Linked DNA regions of Homo sapiens. The protein of the gene in region 1 purifies or fractionates together with the protein of each later gene. This does not show direct contact. Each region holds a gene or a part of one and is shown in the gene's direction. Other genes may lie near its edges.

The links.
Region 2: the proteins of MC5R (region 1) and MRAP2 purify together in Homo sapiens (co-immunoprecipitation; one study listed by IntAct). This does not show direct contact.

The regions. Positions count from the first base shown.
Region 1 is NC_000018.10:13,822,706-13,827,096, forward strand, and holds the start of MC5R (melanocortin receptor 5), read left to right. Parts: upstream 1-1,443; 5' UTR 1,444-1,569; intron 1,570-3,021; 5' UTR 3,022-3,060; coding exon 3,061-4,038; 3' UTR 4,039-4,391. UniProt on the Homo sapiens protein: Receptor for MSH (alpha, beta and gamma) and ACTH. The activity of this receptor is mediated by G proteins which activate adenylate cyclase. This receptor is a possible mediator of the immunomodulation properties of melanocortins.
Region 2 is NC_000006.12:84,050,550-84,054,366, forward strand, and holds part of MRAP2 (melanocortin-2 receptor accessory protein 2), read left to right. Parts: exon of another isoform or gene 1-169; intron 170-3,817. UniProt on the Homo sapiens protein: Modulator of melanocortin receptor 4 (MC4R), a receptor involved in energy homeostasis. Plays a central role in the control of energy homeostasis and body weight regulation by increasing ligand-sensitivity of MC4R and MC4R-mediated generation of cAMP.

The DNA.
Region 1 (4,391 bases):
GGAGGAGGGGTGAGAGCCTTGGGCAAAGAGGGGCGTGGTAGGGCCACAGATGAGGGCTCCCAGGCACTGGGCCTCCTTCCCAAAGAACAATCATCAGGACATCCCAGAGACCACTGTCCAGGAGAAACGGGGTGACAAGCCCTCTTTGAGCTCGGGAGCATTTTAATCAGTGCTCAAGAGGAAGAGAAAAGAAACAAAAAGTGCAACCAGCCAGAAAAACAACCAAGCAGCTACCCACCCAACCACCCATCCACCCACCCACTGACCCAACCAACCACTCCCCCACCCAACCACCTATCCATCCACCCACCGACCCAACCAACCAACCAACCAACCACCCACACAACCACCCATCCACCCAACCCACTGACCCAACCAACCAAACCAAGCAACCACCCACCCAACCACCCATCCACCCACCCACTGACCCAACCAACCTAGCAACCACTCACCCAACCACCCATCCATCCACCCACTGACCCAGCCAACCAACCAACCAACCAACCACCCTCCCAACCACCCATCCACCCACCCACTGACCCAACCAACCAACCAAGCAACCACCCACCCAACGACCCACCCACCCACCCACTGACCCAACCAACCAACCAAGCAACCACCCACCACCCACCCACCCACTGACCCAACCAACCAACCAAGCAACCACCCACCTACCCAACCAACCCCCACTTACCCAATCAACCAACCAAGCAACCATCCACTCACCCAACCAACCACCCACCCACCCAAGCAACCAATCAACGAACCAAGCAACCACCCACCTACCCAACCAACTACCCCCCACCCACCCAAGCAAGCGAGCAAGCGAGCAAGCAACCAAGTAACCATCTACTCACTCAACCAAGCAACCACCCACCTACCCAACCAACCAATCAACCAACCAAGCAACCACCCACCTACCCAACCAACCAATCAACCAACCAAGGAACCACCCACCTACCCAATCAACGAACCCCCCACCCAACCAGCCAAGCAACCAAGTAACCATCCACTCACCTAACCAATCAACCAATCAACCAATCAGGCAACCACCCACCTACCCAACTAACTAACCCGTAACCACCCAACCAACCAAGCAAGCAACCACCTGCTCACCCAACCAACCAATCACCAAACAAGCAACCACCCACCCACCCACTCAACCAACCAACTACCCAACCAAGCAACCACTCACCCAACCAACCATTCAACCGACCGACCGACCGACCGACCGACCCACCGACCCGACCGACCAACCAACCAACCAAGCAACCATCCAACCATTCAAGAGTGTGTTCGGGGGGATTTTCGCTCGGGGCTGACGCGGTTCTCTGGCCGCTGTGCCGTGCTGGGCCACTAGGTGGCAGCGGAGGCCGCCCGGAGCGACAGCCGGCGGTGCGGAGGCGGGCCCGGCGCGGGCAGGCAGGAGGCTTAAAGCCCCGCAGAGCCGCAGCCGCCTAGCTGGGGGAGAGGCCCGTCCGGGGCTGGCTCTGAGCGCCGCACGGCCGTCGGATCCCGGGGACGCCGGGGGCCCGGGCTGAGCGCCGCGGCCCGCGAGGAGGAGCACCGGTAAATAGCCACAACTTTCTATCTCCTTGAGATCCTGAGAATAAATGCAAAATCGCGCTTCCGCTGCATGTGGAAGTGAGCGGGGCGGCAGCTAGCTTGCCCCGTGAGTTTTTAACACAGCTCGATATGATGTTTAGTATAATTGCATAATTTACCGATATATCTGAGCTGGAACTCAGCTGTAACAAATGATTGTAGTTCAATAAATGCTTAGATTACCAATTTTTTCCTTTTTTATTTTTATAGATTTAGGGGGTACAGGTGCTGTTTTGTTATATGGATGTATTGCATAGTGGTGGAGACTGGGCTTTTAGTGTAGCCATCACCCCTATAGTGTACATTGTACCTATTAAGTAATTTGTTGTCCCTCACCCCCTCCCTCCCTCCCAAAGTGATTACAAATATTAATGATGACAGTGATGACAGAAATTCTCTCCAGATGTGATCTGAGTTTGGAGGGCAAAGGGATTTTTGAAAATGAATCATAAGAGAGAAATTTTGCAACAAAGGAGTGTGGTACATTTAAATTGCTGTTTTTTTTTTTAAATACTGTGCTCACGCGGACCTAATAAACTATCAAGCAGACCTCATGGAATTCCACATAATGCAGAAGCGAGGGAAAAATAGGTATTGAGGGAAAAGCAGCACTGTTTTCCTCAATTTTAACACGTATGTGCAGCCTACACTTACAAACTTAAGACAGTAGCTTTTAACATGTGACTTTGCTCAGGGTAACAGACCATTCTGGTTATAGCCTTACTTACAGCTGTGGAGGCTGAATCCTGATGGGTCTAAGAAGTGTCAGGACAAGTGTTAGGGATGCACCTGTCTGTCTGTCTTAAGGGAATACGGGTCTGGGCAGTCTTAAATCGGAGCTCCCTTGAGGAGAATGTCGTGCAGTAGCCTTAGGAATGTGAACATTGGGAGACTGGCTGGGATTTTGTAGGTTATGAGTTGGGGACACTTATGATAGTGAACTTGAGCCCAGGAGAGAAGCCATAAAAAGTGAAACTGTCCTGGGCACTTGGAGGTGAGTGTCTCTCTAGTAAGATGCATGTGAAAGGCTGGGAGCTGAAAGCAAGGAGAGCAGAAGAGGCTGGTGAAGATTCTAATCTGCGTGTCCAGGGGCACTCTTCCAGGTCTCAGGAACGCAGGTCAGAATGTGCAAGCCAGCTGCCGGGCACGTGGCTCACCCCTGTAGTACCAGCACTTTGGGAGGCTGAGAGAGAAGATCGCTTGTGGCCAGGAGTTTGAGACCAGACTGGGCAACATAGGGAGACCCTGTCTCTTAAAAAAAAAAAAAAAAAAGGACTGAGTGAGCCGAGCCCAGTCCTCTGATGCACTGTGTCATTCATCCCCTTTCTTAGGCTGTGTTGGTTCTAGGCTAGCTGCTGTCTTTCTTTGGTAGGCTGCTAACCTCTTTGGATTGTGAATTTAAAACATGTTTTACAGTAAATTTGCTGCCAAGACAAGAGGTGTATTTCTCCAGCAATGAATTCCTCATTTCACCTGCATTTCTTGGATCTCAACCTGAATGCCACAGAGGGCAACCTTTCAGGACCCAATGTCAAAAACAAGTCTTCACCATGTGAAGACATGGGCATTGCTGTGGAGGTGTTTCTCACTCTGGGTGTCATCAGCCTCTTGGAGAACATCTTGGTCATAGGGGCCATAGTGAAGAACAAAAACCTGCACTCCCCCATGTACTTCTTCGTGTGCAGCCTGGCAGTGGCGGACATGCTGGTGAGCATGTCCAGTGCCTGGGAGACCATCACCATCTACCTACTCAACAACAAGCACCTAGTGATAGCAGACGCCTTTGTGCGCCACATTGACAATGTGTTTGACTCCATGATCTGCATTTCCGTGGTGGCATCCATGTGCAGCTTACTGGCCATTGCAGTGGATAGGTACGTCACCATCTTCTACGCCCTGCGCTACCACCACATCATGACGGCGAGGCGCTCAGGGGCCATCATCGCCGGCATCTGGGCTTTCTGCACGGGCTGCGGCATTGTCTTCATCCTGTACTCAGAATCCACCTACGTCATCCTGTGCCTCATCTCCATGTTCTTCGCTATGCTGTTCCTCCTGGTGTCTCTGTACATACACATGTTCCTCCTGGCGCGGACTCACGTCAAGCGGATCGCGGCTCTGCCCGGGGCCAGCTCTGCGCGGCAGAGGACCAGCATGCAGGGCGCGGTCACCGTCACCATGCTGCTGGGCGTGTTTACCGTGTGCTGGGCCCCGTTCTTCCTTCATCTCACTTTAATGCTTTCTTGCCCTCAGAACCTCTACTGCTCTCGCTTCATGTCTCACTTCAATATGTACCTCATACTCATCATGTGTAATTCCGTGATGGACCCTCTCATATATGCCTTCCGCAGCCAAGAGATGCGGAAGACCTTTAAGGAGATTATTTGCTGCCGTGGTTTCAGGATCGCCTGCAGCTTTCCCAGAAGGGATTAAGCACAAAGTGCTCCTCTCTGTGGCTCTGTTCTCCTTTGTTTGCTCACCTATGACAAAGCGACAGCCAAGGGGTAGGCGGGAGTGCTAGCATCCCATTTTTCTCTTTACCAGCTCAGACATGGGCCTAAGAGGCTCTCTCTGTTCAGTTCCTGGTGATTATGTCCAACATGCAAGGGTTGCTTATCCACTCTGGGGACAGTCATGACAATTTCTTACTGTCCTTTTGTGTCCTATGGTTTCTACTGCTCCCACCCATTTCTGGGGGCCCCATCCACCCTCCACCTAGCAGGCATGTGCTCGGGGAATGCACAGCACCCTCAGTGCAAGCCAGACATGATGAAACACGTATTGTG
Region 2 (3,817 bases), on another chromosome or scaffold:
CCACCTTGGGCTCATCAGCCACCAAAGTGCAGCGTGTCTGAGCTTTATCTTTGGTTTCTCAAGTCTCCTTGCTGGAGGAAAGACAGCGTTATGAGTCACAAGGGTGACTTCTCTATGTTGTGCGGGGGACAGTCATTCCTGGAAGTAAGAGGAAGAAGGATAAGAACAGGTAACTGAAAAGACCTTTCTGGCCTGGGCCAGATCAGAGGTTGGTGGTCCTGGGTGGCATGCCTACTTTTGGAGTTTGAGGATTGAAGAGGAAGGTGAGAGAGTCATTGCAATTGGGAACTTTGATCATCTGACTGGCCATTAGGTCTTCCCCTGTACAAACTGGTCAGCATAGGTCTTTGGATTTGTGGCACTGGCTGGCAGTTTCTTGGAATGCCTTAGTAGCTGTGCTGTCAGTTGTGTGCATGTTTGTGTGGGGGCATGCTCATTTTTCAGGGTTTCTGGCACCTTTTGGATTTCTTCTTAATGTGCTAGTCCTGTGCCTGGGTTGGTGGTCACTTGTAAAACTCATCTGCTGATGTTTACCCCTTAACATGGAAAAAAAGTGTCTAACTCCAAAGAAGCAGCCCCCTTAACATGCATACCATCGTAATCCACCAGGGATATTGACACAAAGACATTTATTCACTCTTTGAGAAGTTCTATGTCTGAGTACATCTCCTCAAATTCAGGGAGGTGGAGAGAATTGCTTGATCCATTTTTAAGAAGGTAGAGAGGACTGGGCACGGTGACTACACCTATAATCCCAGCACTTTAGAAGGCCCAGGCAGGCAGATCACCTGAGGTCAGGAGTTTGTAGACCAGCCTGGCCAGCATGGCAAAACCCTGTCTACACCAAAAATACAAAAATTAGCTGGATCTGGTGGCATGTGCCTGGAGTCCCAGTTTCTTGGGAGGCTGAGGCGGGAGAATCACTTGAACTCAGGAGGCAGAGGTGGCAGTGAGCAGAGATTGCACCACTGCACTCCAGCCTGGGTGACAGAGCAAGACTCGCCTCAAAATAAAAGAAGGAAAAGAGGCCAGGTGTGGTGGCTCATGCATGTAATCTCAGCACTTTGGGAGGCTGGGGCAGGAGGATCGTTTCAGCCAGGGAGGTCAATGCTGCAGTGAACTGTGATCATACCATCGCATTCCTACCTGGGCAATAGAGTAAGACCTTGTCTCAAAAAAAGGGGAGCGGGGAGGAAAAGAGAGTGCCCAGGAGTGGTGTGGGAACCTGGGTTGGAGCAGGAAAGATTGGATAGTCCAAAGAAGGGATGAAAGTGATGGGAATGTGGGTTGGAGAAGGGGTGATGGTTTAATGAGAGGTGTCTGGGCCTGCTCACCACGCTTTCTCTGTTTGGGTTTGTGATCTCCCGTCTTCCCCAACAATGGGCTGGCCTGGGCCACACTACCCTGTGCACACCTGGAAAAGGTAAGCTTCCTTTCAGGGCTAGCTTTCGGATGCAGTCCTAATCTTCATTTTTGCTTTTGTTGGCAGTGATGCTTTCAGCTGTTCAAAAGAGCAATTTAGTCTCTCCCTCATGCTCCTGGAAGCTTGTTTAGGATATGTTTCCTGTCAAAGAAGTTATTTTTCATGACTCTAATTTTATGAAGAAATCTGACATTAAGAAAATCTCGGTGCGGAGAGGGTGGTTCTCAGGAGTGGCAGCCATACAGAGAGCAGCTGCCCGTGGAGCTGCCGCTTCCTGCTGTTGTGTTCAAGAGAGAGCAGCTGCCGGCCTGTCAGCACCCCAGGGAGTGAGGCTCAGGGCCAGGCTGCCTCCCTCACTGCGTGGGTGGCCGAGATCATGCACACTGTGGCGGGAATAGCAGACTCTGGGGGCTGCTACTTGGACATGCTGGCAGTTCCCAGCTTATGTTTCAGCAAAGCTTGGAGAGTCATTGCTGGGCTTGGTAATGGGGACAACACAGAACACTTCCCTAGCACTGCCGTATGTTTGTTGTTGGTCTTTGTGCATCTGATGGCCTAAGCTGATTAATTTGAGGCTTGCATGAAAAAATAATGCCTTGTGGACTTTTTCAAGGGCACTAGGTGACTGCTTTAAAGAAGAGGTCAGAGGTTCTGTCCTCCAAAGCTATCTTTGGGATTCAAGAAGTGAGAGGAAAGAGGCAGTGGAGACAAATGCCCCTCCTTTTGTTTGAAGGCTACCCAGGCAACTGGTGGCTGCCTGGGGAGAGCTGGTGTCACATTTCATTCTGCAGAATGAGAACCTCCTGTAGGCTGGCTCTGGTATTCACTCATTCTTGTCTCTCAGTGTTTGTCAGAGCTTTGCTCCTCTCTTCCCACCTTCAGGACTTTTGCACATGTAGCTTTCATTACCCTTTGGTAATGCCCTTTAGTAATCCATCCCTAAATAGTTCGTTTAGATGAAAGGGAATAGTGTAAGGGGGAGTAAAAGAAGGCATGTCTCTATTGTAGGGTGGGTGGTTGATATTCCTTACAGTTAACTCTTACACACTGACCGGCCCCATGAGGGTGGTGTTACTGCTGCTTTCTGACTGGTCTTGTGGAACCTGGTAGCCACAAATGGGGGTCCCCACCGTGTGCTGACATTGAGAACTGCGTGGCCGTGGGAGAACAGCTCTCGGTTCTGTGGTGTGCTGAATAGACGACACCCTCCATCTTTATTTTCTTTATTCCTTTAAGTACTTTTCCCTATTTTTCTATTCCAGATGAAGTTTAGTCCCTCCCTCTGCTCTGCTATTATAGTAGCTGTAATGTTGATTTCTACTAAAAATGATATGATCAAACCAGACTTCATCTTATTTTCCTTAATAAAAAAAGGAGAGAAAGATTATCATTTTATTTTTGAGTTGGTAGAATAGCATGAATCCCAGGATGTAAATGTTGATCATTTTAACTTTTAAATGATCTAAATGCCTTTAAGTAATTTTTTGTCATAGTTTTATTTATTTGTCTAGGCACCGTGGCTCACAGTTGTAATCCCAACACTCTGGAGGCTGAGGCAGGTAGATTGCTTGAATCAATCAATTAACACTTGGTGCATTTGATAAGAATTGGCTGACCAGGGAGTTGGGTGTGTCTGAAGAACAAAGCGAGGCTTTTCTATTCAAGATCAGCATTTCTAATTAATAATAGTTGTGCTGCCTGCTAATATTTTTCTTAATTTTTCATGCAACATCACATTTAACTTTTATGGCAACTCCATGAAGTGGGTACTATAATCATCTTCATGTTACTAGTGGGAAAACTGAAGCTCAGATTTTTCAGGGCTCTAGAGCAGGGATTGGCAAACTTTTTCTATAAAATACCAGAAAGTAAATATTTTAGGCTTTTTGGGCCCATCCTTTGAACAGTATGATGATGTGGGGTTGGAGTCTTTTTTTGTGGAGTCCATGTCTGGGATGGGAAAGAAGGGGTAAGGGAAAGGGGAGAGTGATGCAGAAGTGGGGTGGAAGGGTGGTGGTGATTTTGCCTCAGCTTCCCTGAGGATTGTGCCCTGGAGGCAGTGGGGACGGATGCGGGCGAAAGAAACCTCAGAAAGCTCTTGAAGTGGGGCTGCTTCAAGAATCTTGAAGCTCAAGATGACTGGTGACTGCTCAGTGAATCTTTGTTACCGCTGACATTTCATTCAGATTTTCCCTTATGTTACTGCTATTTGTCACTTTGTCTTCCTTTCTCCATTATAAGGGAAGGTCTGTGGAGTACTGATCTGTCTCAGGCATCTCTGCCCACCCCACAGTGTGCGGTGTCTTGCACACAGTAGGTGCTCAAACACAGTTATTGAACACAGGCTGCATTGACTTATCACCTTCGGTATCCGTGCTGCGCAGTGCAACCATC